6 separate regions of the Homo sapiens genome follow, and all the other regions are reported to be linked to region 1. Evidence: microRNA targets listed by miRTarBase, many of them from high-throughput screens and not tested one by one. Region 1 holds a microRNA gene; each other region holds the end of a gene's coding sequence.
What was found. Region 1 holds the annotated microRNA hsa-miR-20a-5p (UAAAGUGCUUAUAGUGCAGGUAG, at 3,227-3,249, opposite strand). A microRNA usually pairs through its seed, bases 2 to 8, with sites in the 3' UTR of a target mRNA and lowers its output. Matches are read on the target gene's strand: a 7mer-m8 pairs with bases 2 to 8, a 7mer-A1 pairs with bases 2 to 7 and ends in A, and an 8mer does both.

Region 1 (5,075 bases):
TAATACCACATATGAAATGTTATCAAGGCAGAAAACTACATTAATTTCGACTTTAATAAGATGTAACTCATACAACCACTAAGCTAAAGAATAATCTGAAGTCTCAAGTGGGCATGATGATCTTATTTCCATCAAACACTAAAAACTGGCTCTGTGCAGATTGAGCTCTCCTTACCTTTACTGCTCAGTTGAGAGGCTCTTAATTCTCTAAAGTTAGACAAACTATGCAAAACTGTCAATTAAACAGTGTATCATTAAATACATAATAAACTTTAATGTGACACTGAGTTGTTCTCCAGGAAGTTGCAGGCTGCATTTTGTCAGGAGTCAGTGTGTCTTCAAACTACAGGAGAAAACCCAAGTCTGGCTTGTAGTTAGACAGGTCTGCCTGTAAAATGAAGATCTCAAAAGTTTTCAGTAAAATCACCAACACTTTGCAAGCAGCTTTAAAAAGAATTCCTAAAATGTTAAGTGCTTTCTTTCCAAATATAGGCTAAAAATAGAAAGTTGTACATGCAAACGCCAAAAAAAAAAAAAAAAGTTGACCCATTTTTTCCCCTCCAAATAGTTAAGGCTATTTATTAAACCTAAAGCAACATGACCTCTTAAGTCTCAAGCAACTTCAAGGTTAAAGCATTTTAAGAACAAGGGTCAAAGTTGTTTTTTCTCAGGTCAGAGATGAGGCCATTATCAACTTGCTCACTCATCTGAATTTCAAAATGGCTAAATTAACAATGTGAATCTTTTTATACAATACTTACATGGCTTTTTGTTGGCATGTTAGCATGCCTAAGAAAATCTTAATAGAACCAAGAATGTAAAATTTGCCTCACATTCTAAAGCCAGAAACAAATCAAAAGCAATTCCTATTAAACCCTATAGAACCACAGATCACTACCAAACCCACAACAAAACATACACATTTATTAACTTGTTTATTAGATTTAAATCTCAGTTCAAGCCCAATTAAGTTCTGAACACAATGAATACTAGTTTCAGTCTCTAGGGAGAAAAGCCATTTAAGTCTTTGTTATTAAAACATATTTGACTTACATTTTAGAATATTTAAGAAATCATCCAGCAGGCTTCCTATCACACTGTTCCAGTTTTTAAAAAAATTGCTAGTGTATCTCCCCAAAAGCACACCATTTTGCAAACTACCAGACCATGCTGTATTATGAAACTTTTTTTTTTTTTTTTTTTTTTTTTTTGCGTTTAAGTCTTGGTCTTGCGCCCAGGCTGGAGTGCAGTGGCAGGATCTCAGCTCACTGAAACCTCCACCTCCCAGGTTCAGGTGATTCTCCTGCCTCAGCCTCCAGAGTAGCTGGGATTACAGGTGCACGCCACTGCACCCGGCTAATTTTTTATATTTTTAGTAGAGACAGCGTTTCACCATGTCGGCCAGGTTGGTCTCGAACTCCTGACCTCAGGTAATCCGTCTGCCTCAGCCTCCCCAAGTGCTAGGATTATAGGTGTGAGCCACCGTGTCCAGCCGGAACTTTTTAAGCATAGTTTGAAAGCCACGTTTGTCACTAAATAACCAAAAAGACACAATTATTAGGTCTCCTTCAATTCAAAAAGCTTAAGAACTCTGCTAATGTACAATTTGATTTCCATTTTATAAATCACTGTTCATTTCACATCCTGAAAATTTATGTTTTCATCAACTCCAGAATGATAGAATTCTTACCTTTCTATTCAGGAATCCAAGGCTAAGTTCCTTAAATTTCTTAAAGAACACATTAGAGGTGAAAACTTTTGTTAGACTTCAGACAATATTTTTAAAAGCTGATTTCTAGATTTATTGGGTGGTCTAACCTAGTGTTATGGAAGTTTATTTCTTATTACTAAGATAGCCTCTTTTACTCCAAAATACAATGACATTTCTCAAAACTTATCTTTCAAACATCAAGTTTGCCTGTACTTCAGCTTGGGCCCAATTTTACCACTTGGTCCTTTTAAATCTATTATTCAGGTATCCCACATTATTCTACACAAATACACATAGGCTAGAGACAAAAACACATGAAGAAAAGAGAGAAGGCAGAAATGCTGGGTAAAACACTAACTGCCACTTCTTAGTTTCCACTTCAGTGACTTTAAGTCAAATAAGCCTGGAATCAACTATCACTGTTGCCAAAGTCTGGCTTACGTAGGGAGTAGGGAACATAAATGTTAACTACAGACTTAGAAATAAATGAATATCTGAATCTCACCCCACCGCTGCACTCTTGGCATTTGGGAAGAGTGTACACATACATTTAACTGTTACTCTATTTAGCATTTGTTCTTTTTCTAACTCCCATTTTTTTAAGTTGCAGATGCTAAAAGCAGTCTGAGGACCTTGGTCATTTATAGCTTATAAATCACTGACAATCAGAAAGAAAAACTAGTATACAAGCATTTAACAGTTACACTTCAGTTACTCATGTATTGGTAAACTGGTACTTGCTTAATAGAAACAAATTGTACCCCAACCCTAAATTCCATGCTTAAAAAAACTCATCTTTACACATTGCTTTAAACAGAGCGGCATTCTCTCTAAATTTAAATACTTGAGTAATATATGAGCAACATAAATTAACTTTTAGATTAAGTAAAATATCCTGGAATAACACTAACTCCAAAGAAAGCAAAAAGATATACTCTAACTTTACAGATGATCATCAGGTATACAGTATGTTTAGTCATATCGCAATACTTAACAGCCAAATAAATCTAACAACAAAAAATATAGCCAGAATTTATACTGCCAAATCTGACACGCAACCCCAAAAGTGAAATGTTTTTGAATGAAAACAAGACAAGATGTATTTACACAAAAAGTTACACATTTTCTTTAATATTTCATGTATCTTGTACATTTAACAGTGGAAGTCGAAATCTTCAGTAATATTTAATTTTCAAAATCTTCTGGTCACAATCCCCACCAAACTCAACAGGCCGGGACAAGTGCAATACCATACAGAAACACAGCATTGCAACCGATCCCAACCTGTGTAGAAAGGGGTTTGAGTTTCCCTTACTTTTCTACAGACTTTTCACTACCACAGTCAGTTTTGCATGGATTTGCACAGCAGAATATCACACAGCTGGATGCAAACCTGCAAAACTAACCATAGAACAGTGTTCAGTAACAGGACAGTTTGATTGGGCGACAGGCCGAAGCTGGAGTTCTACAGCTAGCAGTACTTTAAGTGCTCATAATGCAGTAGATAACTAAACACTACCTGCACTATAAGCACTTTAGTGCTACAGAAGCTGTCACATCAGATAGACCAGGCAGATTCTACATCGACACAATAAAAGTACACAAAATTAGTAAAAATCATTCATTTGAAGGAAATAGCAGGCCACCATCAGTTTTGCATAGATTTGCACAACTACATTCTTCTTGTAGTGCAACTATGCAAAACTAACAGAGGACTGCAAACAAAAACTATTAAAACACCTATATACTTGCTTGGCTTGAATTATTGGATGAATACATAACTTCTTATGCCAGAAGGAGCACTTAGGGCAGTAGATGCTAATCTACTTCACTATCTGCACTAGATGCACCTTAGAACAAAAAGCACTCAACATCAGCAGGCCCTGCACTTTAAAGCCCAACTTGGCTTCCCGAGGCAGCTGTCACCATAATGCTACAAGTGCCTTCACTGCAGTAGATGCACATATCACTACCTGCACTGTAAGCACTTTGACATTATTCTGACTGGTCACAATCTTCAGTTTTACAAGGTGATGTTCTCTTTTTTCCTGCTAAATTTGAAATAGATAATTAGAATTAACACCTCAAACTCTAACAACTATAAACCATACAAATTCAGCATAATCCCTAATGGGGAAGAAAAAATTAGTTTAATTATCTCAAAGATATGAGGTCCATTTAGACACGTATTTATGCCTTAAGAATTCTTTACAGAAGGCAATCATAACCAACCATCCAACTAGCACTGGAAGTGGTGGCTCTTCCAATGGCTGGCCTCTCCCAAATGGATTGACACATAGAGAAAAAAAACAAAACAAAATGAGACTGCAAATAAATGAGAACTAATTTTGGAACATTTAAAGGCAATTTAGTCCATGTGTACCTTTTAGAGGAAATCTTCACATCCACGTGGCAAAACATTTTCCTCCTCTTCTGGCTTCCACTTAGCAAATACTTGTTGAAATGATTAACAAAATTACTGTTCAGACTACACTTCAAGTGTTATCAGTCAATTGTAGCAGAACGTAAATATCCTGTTTAAATCTATCATCTCAGGTTATATCTACTTTATCACCCAACTTAAAAGAGGGTCTAAAATTATATTTCGTAAACTGCATAAGCCAGTTTCCAAAAATGTACAGGAATATTTACACTGTAATTTTACTACCTTAAAATTAGCAAATCCGTACTTAATGAGTTAGTTTTTCAGAAAAGGTACATTGTCTAAAGAAAGAAACACCTACTTTTACTCTCTAAGAAACCAATCCTATTTATTCAACTTTAATAGCAAGAAAAATTTGTTTTTAAGAAAAGTTCAAGAAAATCAGAATACACTTACCCATTCCAGAAAACTTCCTTTTCAGCAAGTATTCTCAGAAAAGCTACTGGTGCAGTTAGGTCCACGTGTATGACTGGAATAGGGAAAAATAAGGAAAAAAAAGATAAAACATTATTTGCTCAAAATTACTACCACCGTCCAAATCTATATTTGCTATTTTCCAACCTCCTAACAGCAATTAATTCCATCCATTTGTGAGAGTAAGAGTCGAGCAATACTAGCAGGATTTAAAAGCCCAATAATTTACAGTTGAAAAATACGTAAGAGAATAAAGTTGAAAAATCCTTAGCTATCAGATACATGTCTAAATAAGCTCCTAAAATACTTGATTATGATCAGCAGCAATCACCGACTCCACTGTACAGCTCCAGTAAAAGGAAAAAAAAAAAGCAGCCCACAGACTATTCTTCACCACCCCTCCCCCAATCAAGACCTCGTGGCTGCAAGCCGGGATAAAGAGTTGTTTCTCCAACTGCTGTGGTCCTGATGGCATGCCGTTAATTTTCTCTTTTGGTGATATTGCAA
Region 2 (5,075 bases), not on the chromosome of region 1:
CCCAGATTCTCACTGCCTTCCCTGCCCTTAGGTTTGTGGAAGAGCAGGGTCCCAATTCATCTGCCACTTTCATGGTGTCATGCCTCAAAGAAACCGTCTGGATGAAGTTCTCTACACCCAAGGAAGAAAAGCAATTTTTAGAGCTCCTGAACTGCCTGATGAGTCCCGTGAAACCCCAAGGGATTCCAGTGGCTGCTCTTCTTGAGCCAGACGAGGTGCTGAAGGAATTTGTCCTGCCTTTCTTGAGGTTAGATGTTGAAGAGGTAGACCTCAGTCTGAGGATCTTCATCCAGACTCTAGAGGCAAACGCGTGCCGAGAGGAATACTGGCTCCAGACCTGCTCCCCGTTTCCACTCCTCTTCAGCTTGTGCCAGCTCTTGGACCGCTTCAGCAAATACTGGCAGCTTCCCAAGGAGAAGCGGTGCCTCTCTTTGGATAGGAAGGATCTAGCGATCCATATCCTGGAGCTCCTGTGTGAGATTGTATCAGCCAATGCTGAGACCTTCTCCCCGGATGTCTGGATCAAGTCCCTGTCCTGGCTCCACCGCAAGTTAGAACAGCTAGACTGGACTGTGGGCCTGAGGCTGAAGAGCTTCTTCGAGGGGCACTTCAAGTGTGAAGTGCCAGCCACACTTTTTGAGATCTGTAAGCTTTCAGAAGACGAGTGGACCTCCCAGGCCCACCCAGGGTACGGGGCTGGCACGGGGCTCCTGGCCTGGATGGAGTGCTGCTGCGTCTCCAGCGGCATCTCGGAGAGGATGCTGTCTCTCTTGGTGGTGGACGTGGGCAATCCTGAGGAGGTCAGACTGTTCAGCAAAGGCTTTCTGGTGGCCCTGGTGCAAGTCATGCCTTGGTGCAGCCCTCAGGAGTGGCAGCGCCTTCACCAGCTGACCAGGAGACTGCTGGAGAAGCAGCTCCTCCATGTCCCTTATAGCCTGGAATATATTCAGTTTGTTCCCCTGCTCAACCTGAAGCCCTTTGCCCAGGAGTTGCAACTCTCCGTCCTCTTCCTGAGGACTTTCCAGTTTCTCTGCAGCCATAGCTGTCGTGATTGGCTTCCTCTGGAAGGCTGGAACCACGTGGTCAAACTCCTCTGTGGCAGTCTGACCCGCCTCCTGGACTCAGTCAGGGCGATACAGGCAGCTGGCCCTTGGGTTCAAGGACCAGAGCAGGACCTGACCCAGGAAGCCCTGTTTGTTTACACCCAGGTGTTCTGCCATGCTCTGCACATCATGGCCATGCTCCACCCGGAGGTCTGTGAGCCACTCTACGTTTTAGCCTTGGAAACCCTCACCTGCTATGAGACTTTGAGCAAGACCAACCCTTCTGTCAGCTCCTTGCTCCAGAGGGCACACGAGCAGCGCTTCTTAAAGTCCATTGCTGAGGGCATCGGCCCTGAAGAACGGCGCCAAACCCTGTTGCAGAAGATGAGCAGCTTCTGACTTGGCGTGGGGAGCTGGGCCCCAACATGGCGGGTCTGCAGAAGATCAGCAGCTTCTTACCTGTGCGGGAGCGAAAAAGCTGGGCTTCAACATGGCAGGTCTGTAGGGGTCAGACCCGAGCAGCCTGGACTTTACAGTTATGTGAAACTGTCCACAAAAAGTCATGGCAATAATGGTGTAAAGAAAATAGTTTCTTGGGTATTTGTAACGTACAAACTATCATAAAAATTCTCCTCTTTCGCATCTCACTTTGTCTCTTCTAAGTCGGCCTCAGCAATAGCCCAGGATTAAATATGCTCTGAAATTGGGTTTAGTGTCTTCAAGATCAAATCCAGCCAGGAGGAACATGTTCATAACTGGACTTTTCCATCCTAGATTTTGGCAAATAAGCCCAAAGTTGAAACCATGTGAGTGGAAAAAGCATTACATGGTACGTATAACCCCCTTCAAGAGTTATTTCGTCTTTTAATGTTTTTTTCTTGAGGTATCTTGGAAAGGACAGCAGCTTGGAAAAGAATCCAGTCCAGCCCTGGCTCTGCCTCTGGCCATGAGACTGCTGTGCCCGAGAGGCCTGCACAATTCTAAAATGAGAGGATTGGAGGACCAAGATAAACTCAGTGGCGAGGGGCTAGGTTAGTGACCTCAAGAAAATGGGTCCCCTCTGAATTGAGGAGTGTGTACAGTCTTTGTTGCTCAGACTAGCCTTGAACCCCTGGACTCAAGTGATCCTCCCACCTCAGCCTCCTGAGTAGCTGGGACAATAAGCACACCCACTTCCCATACAGTCTTAACTCCATCTATTCAGTCACCCCCAAAGGGGCTACTGTGAAGACGAGACCTGGCAAACCCAGCAGAGATGTGCTGAATGGATGGGTCACGTTAGCTTTTGCCTCAGGAGGGGTTGTCAAGATTTGGATGAATGAATGGTTTGGATAAGGGAATGATGTGTGCAGGAACATAAAAAATGAGTTTGGGCCAGGTGCGGTGACTCACACCTGTAATCTCAGCACTTTGGGAGGCCGAGGCGGGAGGATCACTTGAGACCAGCCAACATATGGAAGCCCTGTCTCTACAAAAAAAAAACCACAAAAATTAGCTAGGTGTGGTGACACACAGCTGTAGTCCCAGCTACTCAGGGTTCTAAAGCAGGAGGCTCACTTGATCCTGGGAGGTAGAGGCTGCAGTAAGCTGAGATCAGACCACTGCACTCCAGCCTTGGTGACAGAGTGAGACCCTGTCTAAAACAAAAAAAAAAAAAATTGAGAGTGGGCTAGGCATGGTGGCTCACACCTGTAATAATCCCAGTGCTTTGGGAGGCTGAGGCAGGAGGATCACTTGAGGCCAGGAGTTTGAGACCAGCCTGGGCAACAGAGATAACCTGTCTCTACAAAAAGAAAAAAAAATGAGTTTAAGGTGTCTGAGGTATGAGGAAACTATGAAAATTGGCTGGGGACATGTTTAATGTGTGAGATGAAAGGGGGAAAAAATATGTCCCATCACTCCCTCCATATCCACACCCTCCTTCACAATGGGGCATTACTCAGGTTCTCCTCAGGTAAAGTAGGCTTGGCTCCCTGACCAATAATCGGTCTTCCACTCTCCCAATTCCTAGTAAGATTCACTTATGAAGAGAAGAAACGGTCTCAAGTTACGTGTGACCACTACGCTTGAACTCTGGGAACCTTCAATGTATTACTGAGACCATGAACCACAAAAATAGGTTTGAGTGAGGTGTGAGCTAGACCTTTCTGGAGGCTGAAAGCATTCACACACACACCCCTCTGCTAGTTACATGGACACAGACCTTGAGCCACAGCACACGGCAGCCAGTCGAGCTAGGTCACAGGATGATTCTTACAGGACACTGATATTGATGTATTTCACAAATGAGAATAAGTTGGGAATGTTAGTGCAATTTAATCACCGTAAGGGTGACTTTTAAAGATACACTGATAGTTAAAAAAAAAAGACAATTAAAAAATAGCATTTTGTTTTTTAAATGGCACCCATTAAAGACTCAACAGTCAAAATGAGACAAATCAGTCCTTTAGACGTTCACAGACAATTGAAAGGCACTTTAAAAATCCACTTTTTAAACTACCACTTGAGAACACATGGTAGCACAGTCTTAAATTCATCCTAGTTGATCGGGAATGATGAATGAGTGTTGGCACCAGAAAATCCTGCTTGCAGAAGGGGGCGCAGGTGTCGGTCCACGGGACAGCCACTGGCCAGGCTAGCTGCCGCCTCACTCCGCAGCCTTCTGTGGCTAAATGGCAGGACGGACACACAGGAATGGGCTTTGGACCACAAGCTCTGGCATATCGGGAGGCAAAGCACTCAAGTACTCTGCAGTCTAGATGACACATTTCATGGTTTGGAGGACAGAAGTAGGTTTCCACATCACATGAAAAGGACAGTGTCACAGTGGGGTTACCCAGTAAACAGCTACCAAAGCCATCATTTCACGCTTCCCTGTAGTTTTATGAGCTCGCCCTCTGCATGTGGATATGGGGAAAGCCGGGCATGAAGGGGTGTGTGAAAAAGAACAGCCTCTGTGACTGACTGCAGTAAGCTCACAAGTTTGTCACTGTCAGACTTAGCAAGTCAGCCTGCAAAGGTTGTGCTGATCTCTTGGCCACACTACCTACTCAGGTTCCCATCCATGCCTCCTGCCTGCCCCCACCCCCAGCCCCACCAGTGAGACTTCTGATTGGAAGTCTATAGACATAAGAATTCAACTCTGACCCATGGATGAGAGGATGAGGCAAAGAACCAATGGGTTATCTAGTAAACGATCAATAACTACCTACCCACAATGATTGTCCCAGGCCAATGTCACAAGACGACATTACTTCCAAGAACCAAGTCATCCCTTGCTTCTGCGGGCCCAGTGCCACGGGTACTGTCCTGAGTGGTTTGGAAGGTGGGTAGCCGCTGATACAGGGACAGGCAGATGTGCAGACACTTACCACCCTGGTCCACCGATCCCACCCCATGCTTCCACCTCCCAGAGCTCTTGAGATAAGACCTTAAGAAGGATCCTTGGGCTTGCATTAAAACCACTTTGCTGTCCGTGGAGGTCTGACAGGACCCAATAGTTGTTACTACAAAAGTGCTTTTGCAAATAGGGCAAGTTAGAAGAAGGAGGTAATATGAATATTCTTTAGAAAAACTCAAATCCATCGGCTTATCAATACCCAAAGTCTGAGGCTACCCAGGGCACAATTTGGTCCATGGAATGCTGAGTGGAGGAGGCAGCTGGTGTGAGGCTGCGCCTGACTCCCAGGAGCATTTAGCCATCCTTTTTGGCTTGGGGAGTGTCAAAGAGCCGGACTGCCTTCCTGCACAGCAGACAGAACCAGTAGATCTGAGGAGCTACGAGGAAGGCATTGGCCACGTTGCAGTAGAATGGGATGCTGAAGGGTACTTGGAGCAGGCTTAGTCCCTGCTGGCGGCCATAGGACCAGTACATGAAGGGGAAGAGAAGGATCCGGCAGGAAAGGAAGGTGGCCAGCGTGAGGATTCCATTCACCTTGTACAGAAGGGTGTGCTGCTGCTTTAGCTGCAATAGAAGAGGAAGGAAAAAGGTAAGGTCACCAAGAAGCTGGGCATCAGGGAGCGACGGGCCCA
Region 3 (5,075 bases), not on the chromosome of region 1:
CGTAGAAAAGCAGGTTTGCATCCAGCACTGAGGCACCCCCAGGGCTGGGCCCCATCCAGGGGTCGACAGCTGCTCCCAATAGCGAGAGCCGGGCCCCTGGACTGGGTGGGGTGTGGCCAGGCCATGGAGGAAGCCAGGGGCCCCCAGTGACGCCCATCTCCACCCCCAGGAGCGCATTAACTGCCTGGAAGGGACCCACGAGTTTTTTGAGGCCATTGGGTTCCAGAAGGTGTTGCTTCCCGCCCAGGATCAGGGTAAGTGGACAGGGCCTGGCTGAGTAGGGAATGGGGACGAGGGGCCTCGGGGCAGGAGGGCCCGGCTTGGGGGTCTCTCCATTGCACAGTGACACCCATGTCCTGCCACGCTGTAGAGGACCCCGAGGAGTTCTACGTGCTGAGCGAGACCACCTTGGCCCAGCCCCAGAGCCTGGAGAGGCACAAGGAACAGCTGCTGGCTGCGGAGCCCGTGCGCGCCAAGCTGGACAGGCAGCGCCGCGTCTTCCAGCCCTCGCCCCTGGCCTCGCAGTTCGAACTGCCTGGGGACTTCTTCAACCTCACAGCAGAGGAGATCAAGCGGGAGCAGAGGCTCAGGTGGGCCTGACGTCCGCGGAGCAGAGTGGGGCGGGGCGGGGTGGAAGAACCCCGGCCAGCCCTCGTGACCTGGCCCGCGTGTGCAGGTCCGAGGCGGTGGAGCGGCTGAGCGTGCTGCGGACCAAGGCCATGCGGGAGAAGGAGGAGCAGCGGGGGCTGCGCAAGTACAACTACACGCTGCTGCGCGTGCGCCTCCCCGATGGCTGCCTCCTGCAGGGTGGGCACCAACGATGCCCGTGGAGGGCGGCTCGGGTTGGTAGGGGGCCCTGGGCCCCACCCGCTCTGACTCCCCCACTCCCCAGGCACTTTCTACGCTCGGGAGCGGCTGGGGGCGGTGTACGGGTTCGTCCGGGAGGCCCTGCAGAGCGACTGGCTGCCTTTTGAGCTGCTGGCCTCGGGAGGGCAGAAGCTGTCCGAGGACGAGAACCTGGCCTTGAACGAGTGCGGGCTGGTGAGTGTCGGCCCGCAGGAGCACCGCTGACCCGATGCCTCTGCAGGTTCTCCTGGGACCGGCACAGACACCCCCAGGAGGGAGCCTCCTTGTTCTCAGAGCAGGGGGCCTGGGCAGGTCCCTGGGTTTGAATCCTGCTTTCCCACTTACTGGCAGCAGGGCCTCGAGCAAGTTCATAACTACTCCACGCCTCAGTTTCCCCATCAAATGGGAGCGGTGACGTGCGTTAGCTAGTGCAGTAGGTTTAGGCTTAGGTCCTGGAGTCCCGGAGGGAGAGGGCAGGAGGCCTGGGTGCGAGCCACAGCCTCCACCAGCTGAGATGGCTTCCAGGCCGGGGCATCCCCGCGCCCAGGTTGCCCGCTGAGTTCCCTGCCGCGGCAAGGGCCGACTCTCGGTCTCAGAGTGACGGCCTACCCCTACCGCAGGTGCCCTCTGCCCTCCTGACCTTCTCGTGGGACATGGCTGTGCTGGAGGACATCAAGGCCGCGGGGGCCGAGCCGGACTCCATCCTGAAACCCGAGCTCCTGTCAGCCATCGAGAAGCTCTTGTGAAATAAAAGCAGGGTTGGCCTCAGCCCTGTGGGTCTGTCTCATGCTCTCCCTGTTCCTCTCCCCGCCACCCCAGGGCCTCCAAGCCACCTCTGGAAATACTTGGCTCTGCCCCATGGGCACGGGAGGGGCGCCAGCCGTGGAGCTGTGGAATTGGGCCCCGTGGCAGAGCCCCCATCCCTTGGGGGCTGTGGGGATGCGCCCAAGCCCCCGAGGGAGAGGCCTGGGGACACCAACAAATCTAAGCCCTCCCTAGCTGCTTGGTAACTGTGTCATGAAGCTGCCGGACAGACACACGTGGCATCTCCCTGGGCAGGAGAGCAGGCCTGCAGCATGGGTCCTGTTCCCGTGTGCCGTGGGTGGCAGTGGCTGCACCTGGCACTAGGGCTGCTCTGTGGATGTGGGTGACAACGGCAGGAGGGGATGCTGGCCTTCCTGCACATAGACCTGCAGTTAGTAAATCATAAGCCCAAATAAACAGGTTGTTTGAATATAGTTTCTTGGTTCTCCGTTGAAACCGTGGGACACAGGGCAGGCCCACCTGCTGAAGAGCGGATGGCTTGGGGGCTGGGTGTGGCTCCCTGTCAAGGTGGGACCATGTGGATACCTGTTCTCAGGCCAGCACCTGGCCACAAGTGCCCGATGAGCCACCCACCTGGGGAGGAAGTCCCGTGCGCTAGGGGAGGCTGTGCTGTGCCCACAAAGGCCCAGTCCCTGCAGGGGAGGCGAGTGCTGTCACAGGCCTGGCTTCCCTGTGGCCAGAGGGACAGGGTGTCCTGAGACGGCCACATCCTATTCCTGGAACCTGCAGATGCGCAACTTCACCTGGCAAGAGGGGCTTGGGTATGATGAAAGGTCTTGAGCTGGGAGATGATCCTGGGTGGTCCGGGACCCAGTGTCCTCACAAGAGGTGGCAGGAGGGTGAATCAGAGAGAGACTGGAAGAGGCTGCGCATGGCTGTGAAGGTGGAGGAAGGGACCCCGAGCTGAGGGATGCAGCGCCTCCGAGCACTGGGAAACTCTCCAGGAGGGCCTGGTCCTGCCCACAGCTTGATGTTAGCCTGGCGGGGCATGTGTGCACTCTGACCCCCAAGCTGTGAGATGGTGACTTGCTTTAAGCCACCAGGTTTGTGGTACAGCAGCCCCAGGAGACACAGGGACTCTGCCCTGCAGTGTGGAAGGCATGTGTGCCCCGGCCCCACTGCTGACTTGGGGATGCAGGTCTGCACCTGGGGGAGGTGCCCGGGGCCTATGCTCGTGCCCCTGACCTTGCATTGGTCCCTCCCTCGCCCCCGGCACTGCCCCAGCTGGTGTGGGCACCCGGCCTGTTGAGAATGGAGGCTGTCACTCCAGTCCTGCGTCCTGCAGGCCCCAGGACCTGATTCCGGGTTGTCGGGAGCCCCTGTAAAGCTCATCAAAGGTGTGGCACAGGGGCAGCCTCTGCTTCAGGCACAGCTGAATCCTGCTTCCCAGCAGGAAGGCCTGGCCCGGGCGCCCTGCCGTCCCTGACTGGGTGGATGGAGGTAGCTGACACTTTTCCCACATAGGGTTCCCTGAAGGGAAGCTTAGGACTTCAGGTGGGGTGTGGCTGGGAAGAGCAGGACTGGCGAGCGTGACCCTCCCCGTGGCTGCGTGTGCTCTGAGCTGCTCAGTACCACAGCGGCTGTCGCCTGTCCTCCCTCGGACAGTGTGGATAAAGCCCACTCAACCTGGGGCGGGGAGGAGGTCACCTTCTAGCTCCAGCACTCGCAAAAGATGCACCTGACCTGGGGTGGGCTCTCACAAAGCCTCAGACTCGAAGCCAAACTCGGCTCCCAGCAGCTCCGGGTTCAGGGAGGTGACCCTAGCAGGTCTCTGGGAACACCCTCTCCTAACCCCCCAACCCAGGGCAGGAGGGATCGCCGGACAGAAGCACGTGCGGAAAAACCCGCACCTTGACCCAGGTCAGCCTGGTATGAGGGTGACTTAGTGACAAACAGATGGGACGGTGCTGTTGCAGGGCACAAGGCTGGCCCCAGACACCAGGCACCACATGGGGCCGGGCCATGGGCAAGGTGCACTCTCAGAGAAACACAATGTTTTCGGAAAAGACAGACAGAGCAGCTCAGGGCTAGAGAATAAGTTTATACACTGCCTCGTTAGGTCCAGGGGCCCGCGCACGTGGCCAGGCGGGTGGTCCTGACGCTTCAATTCATTTACAAGTATTGGATTCCACGCCTGCTCCTGTGCCCGCAGGCTTCCCCAATAGGCCAGCAATCTCAATAATGCTTTATTAAAGGGCAGATTCATATGCGGCTCTTGGGGGAATTTTTACAAATATCAAAGGAACTAATCCAGCATCCTATATAGAACTCTGCACACTTTGGGGAGGTCCGTGAAGCAGGACAAAGTGCTCTTTACACAGGAATTGAGTCGGTTCAAGTATCTGCTCTGTGGGGAGGACACCCTAAGCATTCTACATACGTCACCCCTGCTCTCAGGATGCACCCAGTGGGCTCGCGGTCAGGGTGGCCTTGCCGGTGTCCACCCCCACACCACCCCCAGCTCCGGAAGCGGCTCCACACGGGGCTTGGACCTCTGCAGGGCAAGAGAGGGAGGGTCTTGAGCTGGCTGGGCCCTCTGGGCTCCCTGGGGGAAGACCCCACCCTGCTGCCTCATGGGGCCTGCAACAACCCCAGGGCGGGACCCTCCACCTGACAGTGGGGACAGGCAGAGGCTGGGGCGTTGTGCCTCTTCTAGAGGTGACCTGCTCACCTGCTCTCAGGTTGACCCTGCCTGCCCCCCACCACCCGGGCACACTCCTCCCACGCAGCCTGCTGCAGGGCCTCTGTACTTCCTCTTTGGCGAGTGCTCCAGAAATCCACCTGGCCCTCCCTTGCTGCCTCAGTGCAGCCTTCCCTGACCCCCATCTAACGTCACAACCACCTGAGACTCCCAGCATAGGCCCTTGTGGCTCTGCGGCCAGAACGATGCCTGGCATGGTCAGCACCCACGGCCCAGCCCGCCCGAGGATGTGGCAGGGCAGGAGCCACTTCCAGCTGCAAGCCCTCCTGGCTGCTCACAGTGGAGCTAGTCTTAGGCAGCCCCATCCCTTCTCTGTTGAGGTTTACCTCCAGCGCCCACCTCACCAGTGCGTTCTGCTATCTACAGCCCTTCTCACCCGCAGCATCCGGGACATCCACGATCATACAGTCGCCCTCCTCCTCTTCCTCCTCCTCCGTGTCTGCCTGGAAGCCGTCCATGTCTTCAGCACCAATCTGGACAGACAGGGTACACGGCCATCAGCACTGCAGGCAGCAGCCACCCTGGTGCCAGTGCGGTAGCGGGGGGAACTCCACAGGTGTGACACCTTCCTCCCACCCCCAACACGGAAGGAAACCAACATCCAGAACCCAATTTGGTAACAAACTGTCCAAATGTGAGAGGTTTATTCAAGAGGCCACAACCAGAGAACCTTGGGGGTTCCCTCAAATGAACTGGATTCAGA
Region 4 (5,075 bases), not on the chromosome of region 1:
TACTGTTTCAAATGTGTACTATAGTATTCTTATTCTCTCCTATTACAGCTCAGTAAACAATTTGCCTTCCATGTCCCAACTGTAATTTCCACTGTTTTTCACTGGTTTATAATGCTCAGTAACTATCCACTGCACCTGAATATCCGCCTGTTCTTTTGTTGCACTGATCAGATACATTCCTTTTAGGGTACTAAATTTGGATCTTTCTTCTTTGAGCAGGAATATTCAACGAAGCAGCTGACCAATCTGGTGAATGTTTGCCTGGGATCCCATATCAATAAGAAAGCAAGACAAAAACTTCTAGCAGCTATAGATGATATAGACAGACCTAAAAGATAATGAACACAGCTCTCTTTCCTCAATGGCATTGATCCTCACTCAACATATATGACCTGAAAGCCAGTTTTTTTATGCACTTCTGACAACTATCTGCTAAGAAAACTTTGTGCATGTTTTTTTGACTGGAAAGTGGAAAATATTGAAATGTGTGTGGTGTTCTCATGACTTTTATATGCTGTGGTCTCTTCAACTTTTGGTCTCATTTGTTGTAATCTGAAATGATGTTGCCGCCTTGTCATAACAATGGTTATGTGACTACAGTTATACATTTTACAGAAGAATGTACCATAAGTATATAATTAGAAGAACAGTGGCTTAATATATGTATGGGAAGTTTATGGAAAATGAAGTTGGCACTTTTCTACCCTCTGAGCTTGGTTCTTAATAAGCATAATGTGAGGGTGAATATGTAGTATCTCCTAATTATGAGCACTGCATGAGAATTAAAAAACACATGTAAGTAAAATAGTTGAAAAATCAGTATGTTCTCTGTTTTTAAAATGTCAAAGTTTATGTCAGGGTTAATTTAGTTATAACAAAGTGATCATAATGGTGAAATTTAATAAATATACTCTAGTATGATCAGCCTATGTGAGACTACATTTTGATTTTTTGTGTGGCATGCAGATGTCATGAACTATAGTGCAGCTTTTAGTGTGTTCTAATTTTAATTGTTTTATATCCTGAAACCAATGGTGAAAAGTAATTTCATTGAGGGTACCTTTTCAATGCCTGAGTAGCATACAGAATCATGATTATGAGACTTTCTTTTATCTTTCTTTATAAAAATATGTGGTTTTTTTGTTGAAAGTTTTGGTCTCTTTAAATTCAGATTTTGTCTTAGGACAGTAAAACCCAGGTTGACTGACTCAGGAAACAGTTGTCTGCTAGTCACTCATAAATGTACGGTCATATGTTCACTCTTCTTAAATATCCACCTTTTATAACACAAATGTAAAATAGTATCAGTCTAGCCAATGATGAACTCTGGAATCCACTTAGTCTTCAGTAAGTATGTGCTGTTCCTCTAAACTTTGCCCTGAAGCCAGGGATCTTCTCCTAATGTATGTGACATAAAAATCCATTTTCCATGTACTCTTGCCAACTGTCTGATAAGGAATTTTGTGTGTGTTCTTTCTGACTGGAGAGTGGAGGACATCTAAGCTTGTGTGGCATTGGTCCAATGATTGCCATGCATGACCTGTAACATCAACAGCTCACAGAATCCTAAGGAATCATGTGAGAAACAGGCCTTGGGTCTTATGAGTCTTCTGGGACCTAAGGTGATAAAATGGATGGCACAGAATGGCATGTGATCAAGCATGGAGGTGATAAGGAAACAATTGCTACTCTGTGTCCATCAGTCCCTGCGATGTCTGTAAATGCACAGTGTAATGTGAAGCACTTTCAGAATATGTTTGTGTGTGTCTGTATGCTGAGTGTTTTCTTTTCATCCTCTCATGTCGGAGTTCATTTACTGTCAATTTAAAACTTTCCTCTTGTAAAAAGGTATGAGTTTGGTGCCATTATGATTTGGTTGTGGCTAGATTATATACTTGTGAAGTAGATTCTGCCTGTAGCCATTATTTATATGCAGCCACTTGAAGAAAACAAACATGAGATAAGCTTGGTCCTTGAGTTTAAATGGCATATTTAGCTGGGCACATAAAGAGCTAATCAATCTTTTAAAATTTGCAGTTGATGAAGAGCTGCTTATTTTTCTCTTCTACATGGATTTTATAGTTGGTTTCCTTTAATTTCTACTTTAGTTGGCCCTAGATAATATGAACAGGAATCACCTGCCTGGTAGAGCCCAGTGTTTTCCAAGGTAATAGGAATTGATACAAAAGAATTACTTATCTTGTTAGAGACTCGACCATGCAATCTGACAGACCTTTTAACCTACCCTTACTTTGCTTTCTCCATCTTCAAAATGAAATGGTGGATCTTTTTAATGCTTTTTGAAAAAGGTTTTTTTTTTTTTTTTTTTTCATTAAAAGGTAGCTTAATAAGTGCTAGCTAGCATCAAAACAGTAACAGGAGGTTTGAGTCATGAAGTTACCTAATCACAAGAGAGTTACCAGACATTTCTCAAATACTTTATACAGTAATATTGAGTTATAACCATGTAACATTTTATGAAACTAATTTTCAGATAAATACAATTGAAAAGCTGAGAATGTAAATGGAATTATACGTGTTCCAAAAACTATCATTACCAAAAATTTATTATTTTTGAGTCTAAACTTTCCTTAACTTTGACATTTTCCATGAAAGTTTCCTGTAGAATTTACCATGGGAGCATGGTAAATTAGCATTCCCTGAGAAAGAATGATCATTTCTACAAATACATTGTCTTGCATTTAAAAATGCTAGGGGGGCACATAGCAATTCAAATGAACTAGTTTGCTTTGGTTTATAAAACCAACAGAGATTTTGTAAGTTCACTTTAACTAATAAACTCATTTACACAACTTATTAAATGAATTTCTCTTGAAACCAGGGCCATATGGTATTTTATCATATCTTTAAATAAAATTTCGAAATTTCTATTTAGCTGAGTGCTAAAGTGAAACTTTGTTAGATTAAATAGCTTTTTCTTAACTCACCAAAAAGTAGTAAAAGGCTTGTAATTCAATTCACCTTGTAAGCATAGTTGTCTTTTGTAATAAAAAACTAGATCTGAAGATGAATTGATGAATACAAGTTGTGCTCAAAGCACATAGAAGTACAGGGTGGGGGGGATTTCCATATATATACATATATATATATTATATATATATTTCTTTTTGGAATAATTTTGATTCGGATTAGTGGTTAACAAAATGATATTTAGCTTCTGACAATGATTAATGATGAGAATTATTAATAGTCTGGTATAATCTTTGTAAATGTTAAGACTGGTGCAGCTTTCTACAGATTTTTTCTTATTGTGGAAAATATTTGCTCAATTCCTATCATCCACAGCTTTGTAAAGGCTATGAAAAAGTTTAAGCAGCACAGCTCTCACAAGGACAAAACTGTTAGATTTATACAAGAGAACTGTTAGCTGTTTCAAAATGAATGGAGAAAAATAATTCATTTGCTTTGATGTGCTTTTCTTGATTGACATATCCTTTTTGAATATTGCTAAGTATACTTAGATCATTTTTTCAATATGAAAACAAAACCACAGCTAAATATTCTCGTTCACTTAGAAGGATCCCTCTGGAATTTTAGTACTTTATTGATATGATTAATATAGAACTCTTTTTGGTGTTTTTGATAACCATTTTTATAAGTTAATTTAGACATCACTTTTTGATCCCAAGACTGAGAAGACCTGGCCCTGGTGAGGATTTCCAAATTTGCCCTGTAGGTATTTTTTCACACTGAGCTAAGCCTTTCCATCCAGGAAAGGGATTTTCTTCATCAGTAGTTTTTGTTTTACTCTGTTCCTTCCCAGTCCTAGGTACCAAAAGGATTTCTGCTTTAAAGAAAAGGCATTTCCACAATGTGGGCATTTTAATCCAGCTACACCAAATAGCAAGCATGCTAATCTTTGCCCAAAAAGAAAGGACTTTGTAGTCAGGGTGTCCATTTTGACACCACTCAGTACTAGAGCCTACGCTAAAGTGTAGTGACACCATCAGGTAACCACTGGGAGACCATTTTTGCTGGCTACCTGCTATCTGCCTTACCTTACTTCTGTTATCCCTGCTTTCCTAATCACAATCCCACCTTTAAGCACCCAAGCAAGATGCTATCCTTTCCATGAAACTTATCCTTCCCAAGGAGAGATGTTGTGGAGAAAAATCAATAGGGAGTGGTGGTGGTCACAATGGTAGTATAACTTAAACAAGGATGGTGGCAGAAGGCCTCCCTTGAGAGGAAGGGAAGAGGCTTGCCATGCAGATGTCTGAGTGAGTGTAGCAGGCTGAGAGAATGTCAAGTGCAAAGGCCCCAGGGTGGAGGCTGCTGTCAGAGAACAGCAAGGAGGGCAGTGTGGATGGCATAGTAAGCAGAAGAAAGTAAAAGCAGAGAGGATGTGGCAGGAGGGGACACATACGGGGAAGGACTTTGGATTTCACCTTCAGATGGAAGCATTTGAGGGGCTGTGAACCAAGTGATGACCTGATTTGTGACTTAGGGTTTACCAAAACCACTCTGTGTATTTGAGAAAGAGCTAGAGAGGGACAAAAAGCAAAGCAAGGAAACAAGCTAGGAAACTAATTTGGTAAACCATGCGAGGCTAGGATTGCAGTAGCATTGCGGGATATGGTGAGGGGTGGTCAGACGCTGGACATATGTTGAAGGTAGAAACAAAATGATTGGTATTTGAGGAAAGAGTGTGCTTAAAGACTTTCTGGAGGAAGTAGAAGTCTTTGGGAAGACTGGGTTTGTGAACAAGATCAAGAAAACAGTTTTGGACAGGGAAGTTTGAGATACTTGGAGATAAATTATTGGATGTGTAGGAGAGGGTAGCGGCATGCAAGTCTGGAGTTCAGAGAAGAGGTCAGAGCTATAGATGTCAATGTGGGAGTCATCAGAATATAACGTAAAGCCAAGATTTCTTTAGGAGGCAGAAAACTTACAGGCATAGGAAAGTAAAAAAATTTAAAAAGGCACTACTCCCCCATCCCCTTGCCATTGTTTCCATGAAAGGTGAGACAGGACCAGGATACTGTGCTGGAGGGACAGTTTTCTAGAGCAAATATAAGAACATCTTGCCACCTAGGGACCTACCAGGACCTTTG
Region 5 (5,075 bases), not on the chromosome of region 1:
GGTTCAGGCGATTCTCCTGCCTCAGCCTCTTGAGTACCTGGGATTACAGGCATGCGCCACCATGCCCCACTAATTTTTGTGTTTTTAGTAGAGGAGGGGTGTCACTATGTTGGCCAGGATGGTCTTGAATGCCTGACCTCAGGTGATCCACCCATCTTGGCCTCCCAAAGTGTTGGGATTACAGGCGTGAGCCACTGCACCCAGTCTTACATTTTTTTACATTGTATATTCCTTAGCTTTTCAGAGCTATTATTTTTGACTGTCTTTCAAATCTCCAGTATGAAGGTTACAAATGAAAATATTTAATAGTCAATAGTCTGTGTTTAAGACATAGTAGTATTTAAGATACATTTAATGTATTTATTAGTATTTAAGACAATAGTCAATAATCTATATTTAAGACACAGAAGAAACTGAAAGTGTAAGATTTAGAAACAAGAGAATCCCCACCCCAAAAAATTAGAGATTAAATGATCTACATGATAGATAACAGAATACTATGCATGGATTGCTTATACTCTAAGGATTCCTATTCCTACTATAAGGAACTTGGGGACTAAACTTGAGCCAGTTCTTTCCTGTGTGCCTCAATTTTAATATGTGTTTCAAACTGCATTTGGAATGTTTCCTACCCAAATAACAAAATCTTAAACATGAAGCTAAAATTATCCATGTGTGTCACAGTCACCCTTACGTTGGGTCAGGGAACTCTAGCTTGGTCAGTTAACTGCTGGCAACAGTTCCTTCTTCAATTCCATGCCCCTGAGGACTCTTAATGGTTAACATTATGACAAGACAGGATGTATGTGACCCTCAGAAAGACCACGACATTCTACAGCAGAATGTAGATATATCCAAGGGCAAGATGCCACACCTGTGATGGCAAAATACTCTGAAAAGTCAAACATTCAGGTGTTATAACTTGTATGAGATCCTGATTTAATGGACATCTGCTAAATTTCCTCTGTCCATGTCTTTTGGAGACTGTCCTTCCTGATGTAATCCTCACAGAGGTGACCATAACATGTGCCTCTCTTGCTTCCCAATGCTGGGAGACAAAGAACCCCATTTCCTTGGAAATACAGATTGGATTACGGCTGGCTCCAAAACCAACATGGCTATTCAGTCCTTTTGGGGAACTGACATGGACACTGGGAGGAAAATAGTCTCTCTCCTGCCACTGAAACTACATGGACAATGGAAGCTTGGAGATAATGGCCATTTTCTGAAAAATTAGACCATGCTTGAAAAAAAGCCATTATGGAGGAAATCATTATGGAGGAAATCAAATCCAAAAATTACATGCTTGAATTTTCACTCCTTTGAACTATTACTCCAGCCAATAAAATCCCTGACCGGATTTCTAAACTCGGAATGACTGAATTTTCTGTTTTTCATCTGAACACATCATACTAATGTAGATTGTTAGAATCACAGCACAGTGGAGTACACGAAAGAAACCATGTCTTCTCACAGTGACAAAAGCTGTCATGTGTACGAATATTAAATAAAACATACTGATTTTTATATACTGACTCTTCTGTACAGAAAAAAATCTTGCATTTTTTATACAATGTTCCGGTAAGTTTATTTTAAAAATTAGGAAAGGAGAAAACAGTGATGATTATGTGAGCCAACAGAATTGTTTAGAATAGTGCCAGATACTTGGTAAAAACTTAATGTTGGCTTTTTAAAATAGATCGACTCAATACTAAGCTCAACATACAAAGCATAACTTAACATCTAATTGGATGGCACTTTAGAAAAATCCTCTGCTTAAGCCTGAAGGAAATGTTAATGTTTAAAAATCTCAGGCCAGGTGCAGTGGCTCACGCCTGTAATCCCAACACTTTAGGAGGCTGAGGCAGGTGAGGTCACTTGAGGTCGAGTTTGAGACCAGCCTGGCCAACATGTTGGAACCCCATCTCTACTAAAATTACAAAAATTAGCGGGGTGTGGTGGTGGGTGCCTGTAGTCCCAGCCATTCGGGAGGCTGAGGCAGGAGGTTGCAGTGAGCCAAGATCATGCCACTGCCCTCCACCTGGGCGACAGACTCCATCTCCAAAACATTTATTAATTTATATACTGTTTTTTCAAAAGTGATGAGGTGGTTTAGAAACACCAAATAAAAACATGGGTAAAATCTTGGCCCATCAATTACTACCTTTCTAATCTTGGGCAAGTTTACTAGCCTCTCTGAGCCCATTTAAATGAGTCTGTATATAAAAGCACAAAGTCTCTATTGCATACAAAGTGCTCAGTATTTATTCCTATTATTTCAGGAAAATACCTTTAATATTACCTACCAGTTTTGTATAATGGTTACAGAAATTCTTAAACTGTAGCTATCATCTTGTCTAGCTTACTGATGAATACACAAAATGCCAATGAAGTGACTTACCATGTATCACTAACCGGTTTAATTAAAGACAATGACAAAACTAGAACCCAGGTTTCCTTAAAAGTACTTTTTCCTCTCTACCACAATGCAGATTTAAAACAAATCCTCAGGCTTTAGTTTTGTCATTGTAAATAAAACTTCTGTGAATGCAGGGAAAGATACTACATGCTGGTATGAATATGAATGCAGTATAACTATAGTTTATTATATCCTTTAAGAGTAAAGTGCCTGTGTTGTTCTTTTCAGGCCAATATAGATTAAATGTAAAACTGTACTATGTGATCTGGTACACAGTACAACTGTTGATACTATAAAAAAATCAAACATTCAAATATTCCTAATGTTTATAAAGGCCAAATTCCAAAGGCCAAAACTCCAGGTGTAACTCAAGAAAAAATTCAAAAAAATTATTTCATAAACTGTTTTCTTGAGCGGCTCTATTTCTATGTTATAGTTGGTTACCACTGGGAGAACTGGACAGTTAACTTAAAATACAGAACTAATACAAGAGGGTTAAAAGTCCATTTATGAAGTAAAGTAGAAAGCATGTACAAAGTCGTTCACTTACAGAAGACTAAAACAACAAATAGAAAACCTAAATAAACGATTCTGTGATCAGAGTAGACTCAAAATGTTATCAGGTGTATAAATACTTAACCAAATTATTAACATAACTCTGTGTATCTTATGTTAGAAATAGAAGTAAGCTTTTAATGCAACAGGCCTAGGTCAATCATTTCTGCTAAAGTGTGCCTCAAAAAAAGCAAATGGGGTTCCTAAAATTCCTGAACAAAAAGCATGCTTTTATGTCCATTATTGCATAATAAAACAAACCTGCAATTGGATAAGAAAAAGATACAAAAGATAACCGTCAATCTTTACCAATTTATTTTATACAAAACAGTAGCAATGTAGAATATGGGAATCGTCTTCCGCTGCCACGCACGCAAGTTGTGAACATTCCAAGCCAATGTATACAATTTGGAGGGGAAGGCTAAACAATAGCATCAACCACGCTACTGAACATAGGAATTTTTCATTTAAAAAGATTAAAAATTAGATAGCAATGTCTTCTTAATATTGCTCTCGTCATTGAAGACTGAGGAAAAATAAAAAGTGACTTTATAAGTTTTTTAAAAAAAGAGGCAATGGGGAAAAAAACAAGAGGCTGCTACAACACTGCCATACAGTCAAACCATCATACTTCAATATTTGCATACTCGATAGCAGCATTATTTTTACTGAACCGTGTGCAACTACATGTAGAAACACATCAAAGCAAAATATCATGGCAGTTATCAATCAAGATCCAAAAAGGAAAAAAACAAACAAAAAAATAACTCTAGGATGAACACACTATAAGAACATTTATGGAGAAAGAATCAGTATCTACATTCTTGGACTGTTCCATTCTGCCCCAATAAAAGTGTCAATTCAACTGTCAGCTGTGGATTTTTGGCGGATTTGAGTTTTTCCAGTTCTTATGATACTGCATGCTTGGAACAAAGGGGGTCATAATAAATCCTTCTACACAATGAACTTCATAGGCAGACAGCTGAAAATAAATTTACTACTTGTAAACACACACAAAAAAAAAATACAAGATTTTTTGTATCTTTAAACAATCAGTGCTTCCAAAAGCCCATTATCTTCTATATCGACCTCTCTCCCCTCGGTCTCTGTCTCGATCACATAATCGCTCTCTTTCTCTTTCTCTATCACGTCCTCTATCTCGCTCTCTGTCTCGTCTGTTATCTCTAGGGCGGTCTCGCTCTCGTTCCCGGTCTCTTTCACGGGGTCTACTTCTCCGGCCACTGACAACAGCTTGTGTGCGACGAAGGAAATCATCCACCCTCATATCATAATCATGCTAGAAAAGGAAAGAAATGTGTTAGGTATGTCAAAAAGGCAAATAGTGTTAAGTGGATCCCTGATTTGAAAAAAAAATTTATATAAACAATTTTAAAATATAAAAAAAGAAAAGTCTCTGTATTATAATCGGCGGAGAGAACAATCCAAAGAAATGCAATAATAAATTAATTCACAGAAGGTAATATGCTGACATGGTTTAGAAAAAGGATGATGCCTCATTAGACATCTACAACAGATTATTCAAATCTCTTTATGCAGTTTTCCACTTAACTTTAATGACTTTTCCATCTGATCCCTTCAGTAAGATTTAGGCCAAAGATATTAACTAGTGATGACCTTCAACTATTATCCATATATACTGCCAATTATGCTAAATGTCATCAATGTTTTTCTGGCACAGGCTAGCTCTACATTTTTCCTCCAATTCTACCAACTTCAATTTTACAAACTGAGTATTATGTTCCAGATTTTCTTTCAAACTAAATTGTTACAACTAAGTTGATGTGCAAGAAAAGTTGTGGCTGCTCCTAAACTTGGCCCCTGCTCTAGTTTAAACTTTCTACTCTTAGTTCTCAGCTTACCTTACTGATTTTGGTCTTCTCTCAAAACTTAGCTGAAATAAGATTTGAAAACACAGTCCCACATTACCTTTTATATATGTGATTATGTAAGTAGAGAATATGTATACTAACCAAAAAATCACTACATAAAGATCCATAAAATAGAACTTGTTAAAAAGGATATAGTTGAGGAAAACAAAAAAATCTCAGACTTCCTATTTTAAAAGCCATGTGATCAGTTA
Region 6 (5,075 bases), not on the chromosome of region 1:
CGTGAGGTCAGGAGATTGAGACCATCCTGGCCAACATGGTGAAACCCCGTCTCTACTAAAAACACAAAAATTAGCTGGGCGTGGTGGCAGACACCTGTAATCCCAGCTACCTGGGAGGCTGAGGCAGGAGAATTGCTTGCATCCAGGAGGCAGAAGTTGCAGTAAGTGTGAGATCATGCCATTGTACTGCAGCCTGGCGACAAGAGTGAGACTCTGTCTCAAACAAACAAACAAACAAAAAACCCACATTAAGTAAACATGTAAGTCTGTATCTTCAAAATCAAATTTTCTAAAAGCACAGTCCACCTGCAATACCACTTACATTAAAGACAGAACTATCCACGGAGATCAGCAATAAGAGCTATCTTCATGTAAGTACCACACTTTAAGGAGCATCAGTGACCAACTGTGTCACTGATTCAGACCAAGAGAAAACATATAAGTTTGTGGAAAAGATTTCCCTGGAAATTTCAAAACATAGGTAATTAAATAACCAGAGATTGGGTGCAGTGGCTCACACCTATAATCCCAGAACTTTGGGAGGCTGAGGTAGGAGGATTGCTTGAGCCTCAGAGTTTGAGGCTAGGCTGGGCAACATAGTTGGATCCTGTCTCTGCAAGACATTTCATTAAAACCTAGCCAGGTGTGGTGGCACATGCCTATACTGTAGTCCCAGCTACTCGGGAGGCTGAGGCAGGAGGATATCACTTGAGCCCAGGAGTTTGAGGCTCCAGTGAGCCATGATGGTGACACTGCATTCCAGCCTGGGCAACAGAGCAAGACCCTGCTGTCTCAAAAAAACGAAACAAAAAAAAAGAGGAGGAGAAGAATAATCAGGAATCACAAACAAACTGACATTTTTCAAGCTTGCTTTCAATGTCTATCACTTTACTAAGAAAAATATAATAAATTCATTGTATAGATAAAAATGACATGTACACTATTCCAATATCTGTTTCCTGTTGAAGAAACCATCAAGAGAAAATCTTTTCTGGTTCATCATCATTAACACAACCCCCAAAATAGAATACGATTTTAAAATAGTTAATAGGGTGGTATATATATATACATACACATACACACATAATTTTTATATTTCCTGATTTAACAAAGACATGCTCTTGGGAAGCTGTAGACCTTATTGAAAAGTCTGGTAGCCTTTCCTTCTTTTATTTTCTGCAGTACTTAAACAGCCTGTATGAATCATTTGGCATGGGTGAATTGTCTTGTATCTTCTCATGCATGTATTCTTGTCTACACAACTAGAAAGCAAGCCTCTGGAAGGAAGTTCCCTGTGGTGCTAAGCCCAGTGCCTTGTACATAACCTGGGTGCATTAATCATTGATTGACATGTGCATTTGCAGGGAGGAGCCTGGTAAGATACACTCAAAACCTTTATTCATTGATTTACAAACTGTACAATATTTACAAAGTTTAGGCATTAATCCCATATTGACATGAATGCTGTGGAGAGTCTAAAAATAAATATGTGGCACATAGCTTAATATACACATCATGGCTCTTTACACTTAAGCCATTACCAATATTGAGATGTAATGGAGAATTTAATGTGGTAGAAAAGTCAGAGTGGCTGACCAGTCCCGGACCTTCCATGTGAATGACTCTTCCTTGGCTCCTTGAGGCTGGGGATAGTGAGCAAATAACTTTCTTTCAAGAGAATTAAACACTGCCATTCTGACAGGCACATGGGACACATGCAGCAACATCTATGCAGAGTCTGCAAGCACTCCCTGGGTGGTGGTTGAATCTGCACCACTGTGGACCTGATCCCTCTACACCAGCCAGGGAGGCTTTGGTGTGGTCACTTTCTTGTTTCTTATTCAATCACATGCAGTACTTGGAAGATGTCAGTGGAGTGTAATCATGCACAAAAATGGTACTTGTAGGTATGTACAACATCAAACTTTCATTGTCTTATAGCATCTTTAGATGCAACATCAACTATCTCCTCTTTTAGCAAGAGGGATGAATGAGGAAGCCAAACCCCTACTCCCCAAAGAAAAAACATCACCTGGGGACACATGCAAATAGCATCCTGCAACAGCAGGGTGAGATAAACTCCACATGATAAGATGGATGAATTCCTATGAAGTCAGGCCTGAAAGTCTTCCTAGGGGGATAATCCCACCTTTCTTTCCTCTTCAATCCCACATCATCCCACATAACCTAAATCTGAAGGAAACAGCTTCACAACATTGCGTTTGAGCTTTGGTACCTTCATTTGGGAAGTGTAAATGCTAGTAACATTCTTTATAGGATTCTTGCAGGGATTAATCCTAACTTATGTAAAGTGCTTAGCATAGTGCCTGGCACATACGAGGTGCTTAATAAATGTCTTGCTTTCTCTCCCTCTACTTTCCCACCCCAATTAAAAGCAACATACTGATAAGCCTAACAAACTCTGAATTAAGGCCATTTGATGCAATTTAGATTATTCTGTATCAGAGTTACTGCTGTCAGTTCATATTTAGTCCCTGAGGGAGTCTCATTTTATGAGCCAGAGACATTTTTCTATGGAGGGCAGATGGACCCTGACAACACTGTCCTCTTTATTAGCCATGGTTCTACCAAGTTTCACAAAAACACATCTGAAAACCCTGCACACAAACTTAGACCAGTGATGGTCACCACCTGAATAATTCCAGGACACCATCACTGAGGAAACCATGGAAAAATCCTTGAGACAAACATATTGCTCTTGCCTACATGTTAACTTTTTTCAACACTGGTGCAAGTATTATAGATAACTTTCAATAAACATATATTAAAAGCTCTACCACTGTTGAAAAATATGTATTCTAATTTGATCACTTTGTTCAGAATAATGAATTTTTTAGAATATATTTTAGTTTCTAGTTATGCCTTACAAAAATAAATACTGTTTAAATTATTTACAAGGAAGAAGAAAAATTGTAACTTGGGGTACAAAAAATACAAGAAGGATGACAAAAATTTTACCATCTACTTCAAAAGCAATATCTAAAAGAAAGAAAAACTTCCCATTGAGTCTCCTTGTTAGTCTTGCAATCACCTCACTGGTCTACTTTCTCCTCATCATCGCATATTATGCCTTGCTTCCCCATCATTCGAAAGACAATTTAATGCAGAATCTTCTCCATAAAGTCACTGGGGATTTGGAAGTGGGAGCTCTTTGGCAGTATGAACTGCAGATGGAGTAAGAAGCTGGCTGAGCCACTTAGTCGGCCCTCAGAATGAACTAGGACTAATCTCCACACATTTTTCCTTTCATTCTGAAATCCTCTGTCTAGATTATCTATGGCTGAATAGAACCCCATATCTGGGGAAAACAACTCCATCCTGGTTTGGGGCTCTGGACACAATTGACTCAGGTGGAATCTAGGATCTCATGAAGCATAATTAGGTGCCAAGTCAAGGAGAAGGCTGATCTCACCAATTATATGAAGGGATAACAGCCACTTTATGGACAGTGGCTCCATTAAGTTGAGGAAAATCCTCCTCCAGGCACCCCCACAAATATAACAAACTTTTATGATTGCCTTTTTGTCTTCTGCACAGAACAGAGGAAATGTGATTCCCAGCACTGGGAGAAGAATGTTGGGAAAATTAATTGAACAAATGGCTGGAATTGTTGGAATTACTACTCTTCCAGGGACTCAGTCAGAATTTCCAAGGAAATAGTCCATTCAGTTTGGAGTCAATGTTTTAAAATTCTAAAGCTACAAATGAACTCATGATTATATTTAAACCAATGGTTACTTTTCTCCTGAAAAGCCCACATCTATACATGCCCCTATAACATACTCCTAATATCTTACAGTCTCAGGACCTACTGCATCTCATGCATGTATTCTTCCAAATTAAGAACCCCAGATCTCGATAAATGCAGAACTACTTCTTGGAATGAAAACAAACGTTTATGGTATGGAACTTGGGCTGTACTGACAGAAGGCTTTGATGAGTCTCGGTTAGACTCAAAATGGCTACAATGAAGCAACATTTATTCCTCATGGTAAGTGGCAATGCTTGGCTGTGATGACCTCCAAGAGTGTTGTGTCTCACATGTGTAATTACTGTCAGGCCAATGACTCATGCAGGTCTGTGGACCATCGAGATCCCCATGGATCGCTATTAACACATGGAGCCACTGAGCCACTATAACATGAGCCCTAACCACAACCACAAGCAGGACACTATCACTGACATACAGCGTGGGTGCCCATTTGTCTGATTTATAGGTGACGTCGTGGCAAATGTGGCATCAGTTTCATTTCGGGGCAGTGGCAAGTTACAGATATTTCCTTCACAACAAGAAGTGCAGACCTGAAAGAAAGGAAGAAAAAAAGATAATGAGAAGCCAGCATGTCTTGGAAGGAGGCAGGGTTTTTGAAGGCACTGTCGCCCACATGGCAAGATGCAAGTAAAAATTACCTAATCTATAAAGGAGATGCCAACTCTACGTTCAGGAAGGCTGGGGATAATATTTCTTCTAGAAGCAATCTGGTCAACATGAAAACTCCCCAGGCCAAACTTCAAGAGAGCTAGGTTTTGTTTTTGACACCCTCCACCCATACGATTCTTACAAAGGTGTATAGCCTTCCTGGGCCTCAGTTCTTTCGCCCTTAAAATGGGAATAAAGAAACTCGTCCGTGTTTTTCCATGAGGCTCTTTCTGACTACTTGAGGAAGAGAGGGTAAGCCTTCGTTTGCCAAGTTTTCAAGTGAGAGTCAAGTGGCAACAACCCGGGTGGTTTAAACTTGAGTACTGACTTTCACAGAACTGTTTGCATAAGTGTCTCCATTCTCATTGGGTGAGTTAATGTTTGAAGGGTTTTCATTCATGCAGTTACTCCTGCTTTACACCACCTTACTCGTGGATCATTAGAAAGAAATAAACCCACAGAGTTAGTGACAAAAACTTTCTTGGGGCATGGCTACACAAAGTACAGACCAGCAGCTCCAACATCAGCTGGGAGTTTGTTACAAGTGCAGAATCTCAAACCTTGCCCCAGACAAAGAATTAGGACTACATTTTAACAAGATTCCCAGGTGATTCCTAGTCATAGGATGGTTATT

Region 2: the mRNA of TLCD3A is a reported target of hsa-miR-20a-5p. Seed matches in the 3' UTR shown: 7mer-m8 at 4,555-4,561.
Region 3: miRTarBase lists CHAF1A as a target of hsa-miR-20a-5p. Seed matches in the 3' UTR shown: 7mer-m8 at 3,975-3,981.
Region 4: the mRNA of VPS50 is a reported target of hsa-miR-20a-5p. Seed matches in the 3' UTR shown: 7mer-m8 at 693-699, 7mer-m8 at 1,741-1,747 and 7mer-A1 at 2,785-2,791.
Region 5: miRTarBase lists YTHDC1 as a target of hsa-miR-20a-5p. Seed matches in the 3' UTR shown: 7mer-A1 at 3,145-3,151, 8mer at 2,622-2,629 and 7mer-m8 at 2,251-2,257.
Region 6: the mRNA of LYPD6 is a reported target of hsa-miR-20a-5p. Seed matches in the 3' UTR shown: 8mer at 2,308-2,315.

The regions. Positions count from the first base shown.
Region 1 is chr13:91,349,246-91,354,320 of GRCh38, reverse strand. It overlaps MIR20A (microRNA 20a), which reads right to left and starts at 3,256; the gene lies at 3,186-3,256. It overlaps MIR17HG (miR-17-92a-1 cluster host gene), which reads right to left. Exons shown (of 3, transcript NR_197388.1): 2 at 4,551-4,623; 3 at 1-4,165. It overlaps MIR17 (microRNA 17), which reads right to left and starts at 3,716; the gene lies at 3,633-3,716. MIR18A (microRNA 18a) reads right to left here and starts at 3,570; the gene lies at 3,500-3,570. It also overlaps MIR19A, MIR19B1 and MIR92A1. RefSeq lists enhancers at 4,501-5,048, 5,049-5,075.
Region 2 is chr17:741,233-746,307 of GRCh38, reverse strand. TLCD3A (TLC domain containing 3A) reads right to left here. Exons shown (of 5, transcript NM_024792.3): 5 at 3,340-5,007. The coding sequence ends at 4,738. GEMIN4 (gem nuclear organelle associated protein 4) reads left to right here. Exons shown (of 2, transcript NM_015721.3): 2 at 1-1,887. The coding sequence ends at 1,442. Among named protein-coding and RNA genes, the nearest start is that of GEMIN4, 8.5 kb to the left of the region's middle.
Region 3 is chr19:4,442,015-4,447,089 of GRCh38, reverse strand. CHAF1A (chromatin assembly factor 1 subunit A) reads right to left here. Exons shown (of 15, transcript NM_005483.3): 14 at 4,749-4,845; 15 at 3,693-4,165. The coding sequence ends at 4,065. It overlaps UBXN6 (UBX domain protein 6), which reads left to right. Exons shown (of 11, transcript NM_025241.3): 7 at 170-254; 8 at 371-590; 9 at 677-807; 10 at 893-1,041; 11 at 1,467-2,084. The coding sequence ends at 1,592. It overlaps MIR4746 (microRNA 4746), which reads right to left and starts at 1,112; the gene lies at 1,042-1,112. RefSeq lists silencers at 2,546-2,714, 2,824-3,118.
Region 4 is chr7:93,358,098-93,363,172 of GRCh38, forward strand. It overlaps VPS50 (VPS50 subunit of EARP/GARPII complex), which reads left to right. Exons shown (of 28, transcript NM_017667.4): 28 at 220-3,026. The coding sequence ends at 339. Among named protein-coding and RNA genes, the nearest start is that of MIR653, 120 kb to the right of the region's middle.
Region 5 is chr4:68,310,053-68,315,127 of GRCh38, forward strand. YTHDC1 (YTH N6-methyladenosine RNA binding protein C1) reads right to left here. Exons shown (of 17, transcript NM_001031732.4): 17 at 335-4,271. The coding sequence ends at 4,047. Among named protein-coding and RNA genes, the nearest start is that of YTHDC1, 38 kb to the right of the region's middle.
Region 6 is chr2:149,469,931-149,475,005 of GRCh38, reverse strand. It overlaps LYPD6 (LY6/PLAUR domain containing 6), which reads right to left. Exons shown (of 5, transcript NM_194317.5): 5 at 868-4,323. The coding sequence ends at 4,156. Among named protein-coding and RNA genes, the nearest start is that of MMADHC-DT, 110 kb to the left of the region's middle.